3 linked regions of the Homo sapiens genome follow. The protein of the gene in region 3 interacts with the protein of the main gene of each other region in a pairwise test. Each region holds a gene or a part of one and is shown on either strand. Other genes may lie near its edges.

Region 1 (3,752 bases), on a different chromosome or scaffold from region 3:
ACTAAACCCAGCAAACTGCTTTTCATGTTGAGACATTTAGCAGCAGGCAGAATTCAATTAGGAAGCATAAGTCCTTTAGTTGCTTATTTGCACAGGACTTAGTTACACCATTCTGAAAGGAAAGTATAGTCAACCACATGTCAAAGGTGAGTTACGAAAAAGAAACAAATCTTTTCAAAGTCTGGGATTACTGGCAGAGAGAGCTTTGGTAGGGCTATTGCTATTTAAAAACCAAGAGGCAGCTGACAAAAGAAATTTTTGTGTTTTAAAATTGTTTCTGGGGCTTTCAGTGATAACTTGTAAATTAGATTCTCTTTTTGTGCTTTGGCCAGTGGATCCACATTTGCACGTTATCTCTTTTGTAAAAAGCCAACAGCCGACAAAGAGTAAAGGCGGCTGTCTGGGTAGAGGCATCTTCCTGCTAGCCTCTCTAAGCTCGAGAGGGATGGGATTTAAGTACTGAGTGATTGATGGGGGTGAAGCTCTTTCTCTTCTTTCCATTCTCCCCTACTACCCATAGCTTCACCTCACTCTCCAAAACTAGTCTTAGAATGAGACAGGGACTCAGAATCCTCAATTCGAAATAAAACAGCTGTGTAGACATTAGTGTTACCAAAGCAAAGAAAGCGGGGCTGCAAATTCCAAGCCCCCCCACTCCTGCTTCCATAGTCGGTCATGCTTTAGAAACATGAACTTATAAAAGAAACATTGTAGAATATATGTATATTGCATAAATATTTTTTAAAAATCATTTTATTTAATCTAATAATACCTAAAAATTAATTCTTTGTAATTTAGAGAAAGTTTACCTAGTCATTTATGAATAGAAACCAGAAACATTATGTTGATGACTCTATTCTGCTTAATGAAGGGGGTTGAGGGTGAACTGTCATTTCAGTGGATAATGTCATTTCAGTTGTGCTTTTCTTCTAAAACAAAACAAAATCATTTTAAAAAAAATCTGTTTATTTGTAGCTCTGCCAGTGGATTTTGAGGTTTCTGATCAGGCAGTGAACACTGCCAGTTCTTATGCACATGGGGGATTTAGTTTAGAAAACATCTGTTTCCCCCTCTACCATATATGAAAAGGTATTTTTCCCTTCTGACAGATAAATGGGTAATCTACTACAATTATATTATTTTCTTGTTGAGAGGTAAGGAAAGTATACTTCTACTATAAGATGCTGCTTTTTCTTGAGAATATATTCTTTCGTAAAATTGATCATACCATTATTTTTGGGCAGAAATGTCTCTCATTGTTGAATTGTGATATTTGTGCATTTTGAGAGCACCCAAAAAGTTGTAGGCTTTAAAATAAAAATAGTTGTTTATTTTAAACCAAGTAACCAGTGAGATTATTGTTGATATGTTAAGATTTTTCTCCTGATTTTTAAAGCCATATTTTATCATCTGTCTCTTATTAAATATCCCTGATGCCACAAGGTCTGCTCACCTGCATACCTCTTTTGGTGTATGCCCCCACCTCTTTTTGGTCATCTTAATCTTAATTGTTGAAGTGCTTTCCTTTGTGAAATATTTCATCCTGAAAAATCTTGTCTTCTTTCCAAAGCCCTTAATTGTGCGAGTTTAAGTGAAGGAAATAGTTCTTTTTCAAGAAAAAAATATTTATTTTTTAAATGAAATCCCACATTTTAGTAGATAATATGAATCACATTATTGTGAAAAATGTTATGCATGAAAAAAAATAAACACAACCTTTTCCTTTTCAAATAATAGGTTAAAATACTCCATGTTGATGGCTGCCAACCAAACTCTGATTTATTGCCACCACAAACCCTAAATAGCGTTCATTTACTAGTAATGTCTAATGGCATACATGATGGTTTGCCAGATTTGTAGCCTTTGTGAGGCTTATAAGTAGGACTGACTTGGGAAGATCATAAAACTTAATGAACTTCTCTACTGCAGGAGGTGTCCGCAGGGGAAGAGAAAGGCCTGCTTGGTTGGTTGGGCTGGTTGAAGTATTTTTTATGTTTAAGGAGAAGAAAATGACTAGTAAAAATGCCTTACTTTTAAAGGAACCCTCCCTAGAAAGAGTCATAAGAATTTTAGATATTAAAACTAGATCAAGAGTATAGTTTACAAGTGAGGTTTTATGTGCATTTAGTATATGATGTGAGATTAAACCTTTTATCTTTATTGCTAGAAGTGTGACTAGCTTTCAAAGAGACAAGGCAGTACTGTCATTCGACACCTCTCTATTTAATTGTGAACCCACAGGTTTAGAGACTCTTTGGAGTCTTTTTTTGGTGTGCTTCTCTTTTTAAGGTTTCAATATAAAAATCTGTTACATTTTTCTTTGTACAGTGCTGTGTGATTCTTTTAATTCTACATATGTAAAAATCAATTTTTTCAAGTGAAAATTTAGCAAGAAAGGTGAAAATTGTTATATATTAGTCTAAATGTTATTATATATTTTGCATATGCTTTTAAGTTGCTCTTGCACTATTTCCAATATAATTATCATCTTTTGTTTCAAGTTTTAAAAACAAATGCACTGTTCCATACATGATTCCTTTTTGTGTTTTCATGAAACACATTTTGTTTTAATGAACTTATTTTCAAGATTTTAACAACTTTTTATTGTGGACACCTTTGAAACATAACATGCAGAGAGCAGAGACTCTTGAACCTCCCATGAACTCAGTGCCCATCTTCAGCAATTAGCAATACTTGGCCAGTCGTGTTTTCTCTGTAATTCCCACCATTCCAAAATTATTTTGAAGCAAATTTTAATGGTTCTTTAATGTTTTAAGTTTCATATCAATTTTAAGCATTAGGTCTGCTTATATTGGAAATATTAAGTGATTAAACAGGAAAAATACAAAGTCAGAGTATCTTGGAAATGTTATAAATTATATTGCTTTATCAATATATTTTTCTTAACTTAATATTTTACCTTTTTTTTTTTCTATTTTTATAGATTTGGTATCTTACTGGAGCTTTTGTAGGAGGTTTTCAGAGAAGTTGTAAAAGAAAGGGATTTTTCTACTTCTTTATTCTTCCATTTCCATCCTAACAAAATAGCACATATAATACATTTGTAGAAAACCTGGAGAAAAATCTCATTGCCAAGCTGGTTTAGAACCTCATGATCTAAAGTATCATGTGGATATTATCTTTAAAATATAGAGACATTTTCCAATCCTGTTCTTTATTTTTTTCTTCCCAATAAAAATGTATTGAACTCTCTTGTCAATACTAACTTGATCTGTGCAAGTAATTCTTTTGTTCCTTAGTTTTAATGACCCTCATTTTATTACAGATTTGAATAGTTTTGGTATTTTATTTGGGACTTTACTATGTTATTTTATTAATTTACATAATTTTATTCTGAATTAGAAGTCTTTTAATACACTAGCAAAGGAGGCCCCGACTTGCCCCAAAGAGCACACTGGTTGATCGGCTTTCATAAAATGTACTTGTCTACATTTTTCATACTATGATGCTTTTCCTTTTAATTAATTTTGCCTGTATATTTCCATCTCAATTTATAAATTTTGTAAAAGGTTACTTCTGAGGCAAATTTAAATTAACGTATTAGTTGGATTATTTATATTTTGATACTTTATAGTGGCATGGTATAGGATGAAGTTACATTATATGAAGTGGGACTATAAGAATTGAAACTGCATTTCGTGAACCACACCCTAAGTCAGTCATCACTTTATTTTGTACTCTACCCTGAGGTATCTATTTAGAATAAATGCTTAACACATCAGCACTAACAC
Region 2 (3,752 bases), on a different chromosome or scaffold from region 3:
TATGAAACTGTTCACTTTATTTTATTTTCCCATTGTAGAGTCAGATTGATCAGCTGAGCCTAGAGATCTCCAACTAATCTGAACTTTTTTTCATACTTAACTTTTTAGGAGAGAGAAACAAATGATCAGAAACCTACTTGCATCTTGAATTTATTTAAGAAAACAACTTCCTAGGGCCAATTCTCATTTACTTTGATTTGCATCATTCTTCTGGCTCCTGGTATGATGCAGTGAGAATTGATATTCAGGATGAAGACTGAAGTGTTGCAAAGTCATGACTCATCCAAGAAAAATACATTCATTCTATTCAGTACAGACACCAAGGCTAGAAATCTAGTACACTCAGAAAAAGGATTTTCTGGTTCATAATAACAGTTATCTCTAAGGGCTGGCTCTGGGACCAGCAAAATCCTCGATGGTTGATGGTGGGTGTGGTGTCTCCTCTAAGAGAGAGTAGGTGCTGTTATCCCCTTTCTATAATACAAGTGAAGGGAAGTGACTTATCTGAGTCACATAGCTAATATGTAGCAAGGTGTGTGTGTCTCCAGACCCCATGAATCTTTCTGTCATGCCAGGAGGAATAACTTCTGCCTTGTACATTCAGTTGCTGGAAGTGTTTGTGTTTCATACCTTCTTTTCAGGTTTGATGTCAACAAATCTCTTCTCTATAACTCATTGACATACTTTGAATTTTGTGGTTAACATTTGATTATCAAAGAGTCTAAAATGAGAAAAGGTACGCCACTTTTAGTTTTCAGGGGAAACCTTTTAAGATTTCACAATACCTTGTTAAAGATCACTTGTTTTAGGAAGGTTGAGGAGAGAGATGGCACATTTAGCTTCTTTGAACTATGTAGACTCTGATAAAAATGTCTTAGATTTAGAAGTAATAAAGAATGTTGGGTCTGTTTTTGGCTTCGTTGCTCAGGTGTTCTGAGAGCAGCACAGCTCCCCCTATGCCAAGTGACTTTCTTTCCCTTAGGTTAAAGGAGGTTTATTCATTTTGATCACTTAAGTACATCAGAGGGGATTATGATGATTTTGGAAACATTGAATCAAATCTTCATTTCATATATTCATTTATTTTATTTTAGACTTTAGGCAGAGCCTAATATAATTTTTTAATGTTGATTTTTTTGTACTGAAAACATTATAGAAATACAAAAATGTAATATTTGGGAATTGTTCAGAAGAAAACACATATTATACCCAAAGTGTTTCTCAAAGAAGCTAAATGTAGCATTAACTCTAGACTTTGAAAGGATAAGTTATGGGATGATTTGCATGAAAGATTTTGGGGAATAGTTGTAGGAAACTTAGTTTTTCATTCTTTGTGAATGTTAACATCCAAACGATTACAGATAATTAAGATATAAGGCTTCTCCACTGTTGCAGAATTCTTTTTCATCCTGTTTTAAAACAACCTGAGTTTGTTTCTGAATGATCCTTTTGTAATATAAAATTAATGAACTTAAATCATGCCTATGTCATTTTGACATCTTAGATTTCCTTATACTTATGGGAAGAAGGGATTGAGTGAGATTTTTACGTTTTTCACATTTTACAGTTCGTCTCATAAGGAAACTCCCATAAGAAACTGGCATTCAAAGACATAAGCCTTGTTTTTTGTTGTTGTTGTTGTTGTTTTAAAGGAAACTTTAGTAGGTGAAGCAAATTACTTTCTTTGCTCAGTATGTTTGGTGATAAAAATAGTGAACATGTGGATGATTAAACAGTTTTAAACCGGCATTAAATCTATGACTTTAAAATTGTAAACACTTTAGAGAGAAGTTCAAAAATGAATACCTAAGCAAAAGGAAACAGTATGTCATTTGGTAGACAGGTTTCTGGAAGAATCAGAAGAATTCTGTGGTATGTTTTATACATCAGGGCAAGATCAATGGGTTTTGAAATTGTCCAGTTCCAGATGAGGCTTTTAAAAATACAATTCACAGACATATGGGAAATTTTTGAGTGGTTGTGTTGTAATGCAAAACATTTTTTTCCTCACAGCCCCATTAGAAGTTTATTTCATCTTTTTAATTTTATTTTTTAGGAGGAATCACATATAGCCTTCAAAACGATCATTCTCGCCAGTGATTTTTTTTTTGTCCCATTAACTGGAACTTAATATAAATAAAAAATAAGTAATTATGCAAAAGAACATAGTTTACTAAGTTCCTCTACTATGATGATTATATTAAACAGATATTGATAGAGGACGTATTGTGTGCCAGGTACTTTGAATAAACATCAGTCAGGAAAGACAAGGTTCCTTCCTCTTTGAGGCTTTATTGTGTAAAGTGGGAAAATAGATAATAAATTAAATGAATAAATGAAAAGCGAATTTAAGGCAGTAATAAGTGCAGTCGAGAATGGGGGCCACTTTTCCATCTGGGCTTGGTGGTCTGGGAGGGCTTTACTGAGGACTTTAGAGCTGACTTCAGTGAAAAGAAGGCAACATGTTTGGGCATGTGTGGGACTAAATATATATACACATCCATGAATGTGGAGTGTCTACAAAAGGGTTTGAAGATAAGTCTTTGCATTTTATTCATCAAACTTCACCGAAGGACTGTAGTCAACAAGCAAAAACTGTGCAAGATTAAAAGCCTGAAGAAGAATACACAAATATTCTTATTTATAAAACGAGTATTTATTTTAAAAATTCTTATTTATAAAATGACCTCTGCAAGGTCTCTGGGCATTGAGGATGGCCCATGCAAAGGCCCTGTGACAGGCAGAACCTGCCCTTGTGAGGAACAGGAGATAGCAGCCAAGGAACCAGGTCAGCAGGGCCTTATGGACCACAGCGGAGTTGGGGTTGGGGTGGAGTGTTTCCATTTAGTTTGAGTATAGGGGAAGCTGCCAGATGGATGATGGATGATGGATGGTAGATTATTGTCTCAGTTTCTGCTAAGTTCTTTTATGTTACTTATGATATCACATCTCATTGTAATGACTTTTGTTAGTACATTGATTTTGATGCTGTTTGTATTTTTCAACAGGAAATCATACTCATTTTAGAAATAAGAATATTTGTGTATTCTTCTTCAGGCTTTTAATCTTGCACAGTTTTTGCTTGTTGACTACAATCCTTGGGTGAAGTTTAATGAATAAAATGCCAAGATTTATCTTCAATCCTTTTGTAGACACTCCACATTCATGGATGTGTATATATATTTAGTCACACACGTGCCCAGACATGTTAGTCAGTTTACTTTCTCTGGCTACCACGGGGGCCACCATTTCTACTCTTGGTCAAAAAGAGACATTTGGAAATTGGGCATTCAGCAATTTTGGGAAATACCAGTGAATCCTGATTACGCTTGTGTGTTTTTACCACATAGTTAAAACAAGGTGAGAGTTGGGAGGTTCATTGTACAGTTGACTGTGAGTTGGGGATTTAAAAAAAATTCCTTTAATCTATCCCTAGCCAGTGTCCTTTCAAATGATCATTTATTGGAATGTTGTGATTTTAAAATCAGATTTTTTCCCCCCAATACATTTTATTCTTGTTTAGTGACAATGATAGAAGAAGAGAAATCATTGTGTGGGTTGTTAATATGACTAGTCATGGGTGCTCTTCACAGCTTCTGTTGGCTTTGTTCCAACCTGCAACATGCACCCGGGTGTGTAACCATAAACCGTTTTATAATGTTTTGGTAAAGTGGCCACAGTTTTTGCGGGGATAGACTGCCTGCCTAGTAACTTAGTTCCTTAATTTAATGAAGATTTTTTTTTCTAGTTCT
Region 3 (3,752 bases):
CCTCCCCAAAGTGCTGGGATTACTGGCGTGAGCCACTGCGCCCGACCCCTTTTAGGCAATGTAGGGTATCTTCCAAACGTTGCCATGGCATTTGAAAACTGTCATGGCGCTGGCGAGAGTGTGTTTTACCAAGCTCATATATTATAATTAGTGTATAATCAGCAGTGAGGAAGGCCACAGGTCACTTTCCCCGCCATCTTGGTTTTGGTGGGATTTGGCCGGCTTCTTTACTGCATCCTGTTTTATCAGCAGGATCCTTGTGACCTGTGTCTTGTTCCGACCTCCTATCTCATCCGATTACTAAGAACGCCTTAACTCCTGGGGGGTGCGGCCCAGCAGGTCTCAGCTTCAGTTTACCCAGCCCATGTGGAGTCTCTCTGTTCCAACACCTATTGACACTTGCATCTGGATCTTGCACTAGGCTCTGCAGATTATGCTCAGTCTTGAATACTGAGCTTTTTTTGTCCCCTTGAACTTCCCTCCTTGGGCAAGTATCTCAGGGCCTCCCTCTTGCCCACCCTGCTGCTTCCCATCTTTCTGAAAGAGGCGGCTCTGCAGCTGCACAGCACTTGGCCAAGACCTCCTGGCGGTGTGGAGCTCTGAAGACACAGGAGGGATGTCCTCCGAGCTGTTCATGCCTAGACCTACCCCCAGGCTCCCTCTAGCAATCAGCTCCAGTCCTGGGCCTGTCTGCCTTCCGGGAGGAGTGGGGGCCCACAGAGCTGCCCTTCCCGCGCTGTGTATGGACTCAAGGCACTGATGGCCTTCGGTGGGCCACTGCATAAATGGATGTTTCTGCAGTATTGAAGGCCAGTCAGGCAAACCGTGTGCTTTCCTACGCAGTGGGGAATGTGTCGCCCTTTCCTTACATCTTGGAGACCAAAGCCACCATCTGCACTTGTGGGTACATTGTGGCAGTGGTCGGTTAGGGTGGTCTTTCAAAGCAGTTTGAAATGCAGACACTTGTGGGCGTCCCCTAAGGCAGGTGCCCTTTACCTGGAGGCCGCATTGGTCACCTAGACCCGCAAGGCTCACCTGGGCCGGAAGGTGTGGTCAAGCGAGGCCAAGTAGCCCAGAGGCCACCCCTAAGCACCTGTGGACATCATGAGTCCTTGCTGGGGTCCTCACAGAGGGAAGACAGCCCCCAGGGTAAAGCCTCAGGTGCTAAGCACTCGCGCTGCCGCAGGGGGGGAGGCACGTGAGCATCCACTGTGCCGCCCAGGACGGGCCCACCCGGGCTCCAGAGCCTGGGGAGGAAGGCTGCGAGGCTCCCACGGGCTTACATTCAAACCGGGCACACACAGAACGGAGGCCTTCGGCTACGGGACGCCCGGCGGTGGGGTTACGGATGGTACAGCCCTCCCTCCCCGCCTGCTCGAGGCAAATGGTTTCGCCCGGCTACACACACCTCTCCTGGGCGGCAACCGAGGGCGCGGAGGGGGCAAGACGTGCGCTGAGGCCACGCCCCTACTGCATAGTCATAAGGCGGGAGGCTCTGCCTTCGGGGCGGGGCAGACAGCTCCTCGCGCTCGGGCGCGGCCGGTTGGGGGCACGGCCTAGCTCCGGGTGCGGGCGGGGCTGGAGGCGGGGCCGGCCACCGCCCGGTTCCCGCCCTCGCTCTCCTCCCCCAGCGATCAGGCCCCGCCCCGCGCCCGCCGCCGCGCAGGGAGGGGCGGGGCCCGTCTCCGGCAGGCCCCGCCCCCTCTCTGAATATTGATGCGGCGCGCGTCGGCGTCGCCCTCCTCCCATTGAGCGAGGCTGTGTCGCGTGGCCCAGCGTCGGCGTGACGGTTGGACGCGGGCGCGGCACTGCGGGTCCCGATTGCTGCAGCCGCTTGTCAGTGTGATGAAGATTGGCACCCAGGTAAGCTGTCACTCAACCGCTCCGCCGCCGCCGCCGCCGCTCTCGCCGCCGCCGTCCCTATCAATCACACCGGCCCGCGGCCGCCGCCCGCCGCCGCCGCTGCCGCCCGGGTCTGGAGGGCCGGCGCTGCCCTCGAGGGCCCGCATTTGACCCGCCGCCCGGGGCAGGGGGCGGGGAGGGGGCGCGGGTGGGGGAGGGGAGCGGGCACCCGCGGGGGAGGGGGCGCCTTCAGCCCAACCGGCGCGGGGGCGCGCCCAGTTGGTTTCTTAGTGTGGGTTGAGGGACGCGGAAATTTCTGGAAGGCGCCGCCGCCGCCGCGCTGGGCCTGATCGAAGCGCGCGCTCCTAACCGTCCCTTTCGGAGTGCGGCGCGCGCCCCGGCGCGGGGCGGGGGCGCGCGGAGCCCGGCGCGGGCGGGGCGGCGGGCGTGAGGGTCGGGGGCGCGCGGCGGGGCGGGGCCGGGGCGGGCGGCGCGCGTGGGGCCGGTCGGGTCCGCGGCCTCGCGGAGTCCTCAGGGCCGGCGGGGCTGCTCGGAGGGTGCGGGGCGCGCGGCGGCGCAGGCGGGAAGATGGCGGCCGCGACCCCGGCCCCGGCCTCGGCCGTGGCGAGCGGGTGGGTCGGGGTCCTGGGGGCGGTGGGCGTGATGGGGCTCGTGGCCCTCAGCCGGGCGCCGGCGCGGGAGCAGCCCAGGGCCGCTCGCTGACGGCAGTGTTTGGGGCCGGGTGCTGGGGAAGCGGTTCCGGCGTCCCGGGAATTGGTGGGAAGAGCCGCTTCTGTCACACGGGTCGTGGTAATGGATGACAGGAAGTGCCGGGCAGGGTCTGGGCGCCCTGTGGGTTTGCACCTTCCTTGTGAGGGAAATCGTGTCACTTAACGAAAAATGAAGAAACGCGGAGTCTGCTTTATGTCATCCTCGTGGCTCTCGAAATGCCTTATTTGGACAGTGGCTCTGCGACGGGACCAGTTAGGGCCTCCGTTCCGATGGCGGATTCCTGACGGGAGGCCCGAGGGTCCGGGAATGGCGGCGTCCTGAGGTCGGGCCCAGGGCAGGCCAGGCTGAGCGCCACGGCGGGGCCGCAGCCCTGGGGGGTGTTCCACCTGTGTGTGGGGTTCTCTTCCAACTCTACGAGAGTTTGCTTTTTAAAACAGTAGATGATTTTTCCTTAGGAAGTGGTTCCTCTTCAGGATGAAAGAAACCCCCAGCTTTAGTTAGGTCTACTTTCATGATTTTTCCTGGCATACTGAAAAATAGGCTTTCTCTAAACATAAGGAAGAATCGAGGTGAAATGTGAACCTCTGCCAGTATAGTTATTGGTGATGCTCTTGCATTTAGTCATAATTTGGAAGATGGCAGGCTGACCCCAATGAGCCTTTCATCACTCTGCTTAATTTACTTAGAGTGATTTGTGAATCCTGTCCTTGTACACAGGCGTACCTCAGATAATTCGAGTTCTAATCCAGACCACCGCAGTAAAATAAGTATTGCAGTAAAGCAAGTGACGCAACAGTTTTAGGTTTTTCAGTGCATATGAAAGTTGTAATTACAGTATACTACTTAAAGTGTGCAATAGCAAGCATTATATCTATAAAAATGTGCTTACGTTAATTAAAAAATATTTTAGTGCTAAAAATACTAATGATCATCTGAGCCTTTAGTGAGTCCTGCTTGTTTTATACTTTGACAATCTGGCCTCAGTGTGGATGGCTGCTGACTGATCAGGGTGGTGGTGGCTGTGTCAGTTACTTAAAATAAGACAACAGTGAAATTTACTGCATTGATGGACTCCTCCTTTCATGAAAGACTTCTTTGTAGCATGTGATGCTGTTTTGATAGCATTTTAACCACAGTGAAAATTCTTTCAAAGTTGGAGGCTATTCTCAAACTCTGCC

What was found.
Region 1: the proteins of PKNOX1 (region 3) and PBX3 interact in a two-hybrid assay, tested with the Homo sapiens proteins (2 studies listed by BioGRID and IntAct).
Region 2: the proteins of PKNOX1 (region 3) and FAM110B interact in binary tests that used the Homo sapiens proteins (3 or more experiments, as listed by UniProt).

What each region holds. Positions count from the first base shown.
Region 1 is NC_000009.12:125,750,365-125,754,116, forward strand, and holds part of PBX3 (pre-B-cell leukemia transcription factor 3), read left to right. Parts: intron 1-3,752. UniProt on the Homo sapiens protein: Transcriptional activator that binds the sequence 5'-ATCAATCAA-3'.
Region 2 is NC_000008.11:57,997,419-58,001,170, forward strand, and holds part of FAM110B (protein FAM110B), read left to right. Parts: intron 1-3,752. UniProt on the Homo sapiens protein: May be involved in tumor progression.
Region 3 is NC_000021.9:42,972,802-42,976,553, forward strand, and holds the start of PKNOX1 (homeobox protein PKNOX1), read left to right. Parts: upstream 1-1,760; 5' UTR 1,761-1,863; intron 1,864-2,339; exon of another isoform or gene 2,340-2,474; intron 2,475-3,752. UniProt on the Homo sapiens protein: Activates transcription in the presence of PBX1A and HOXA1.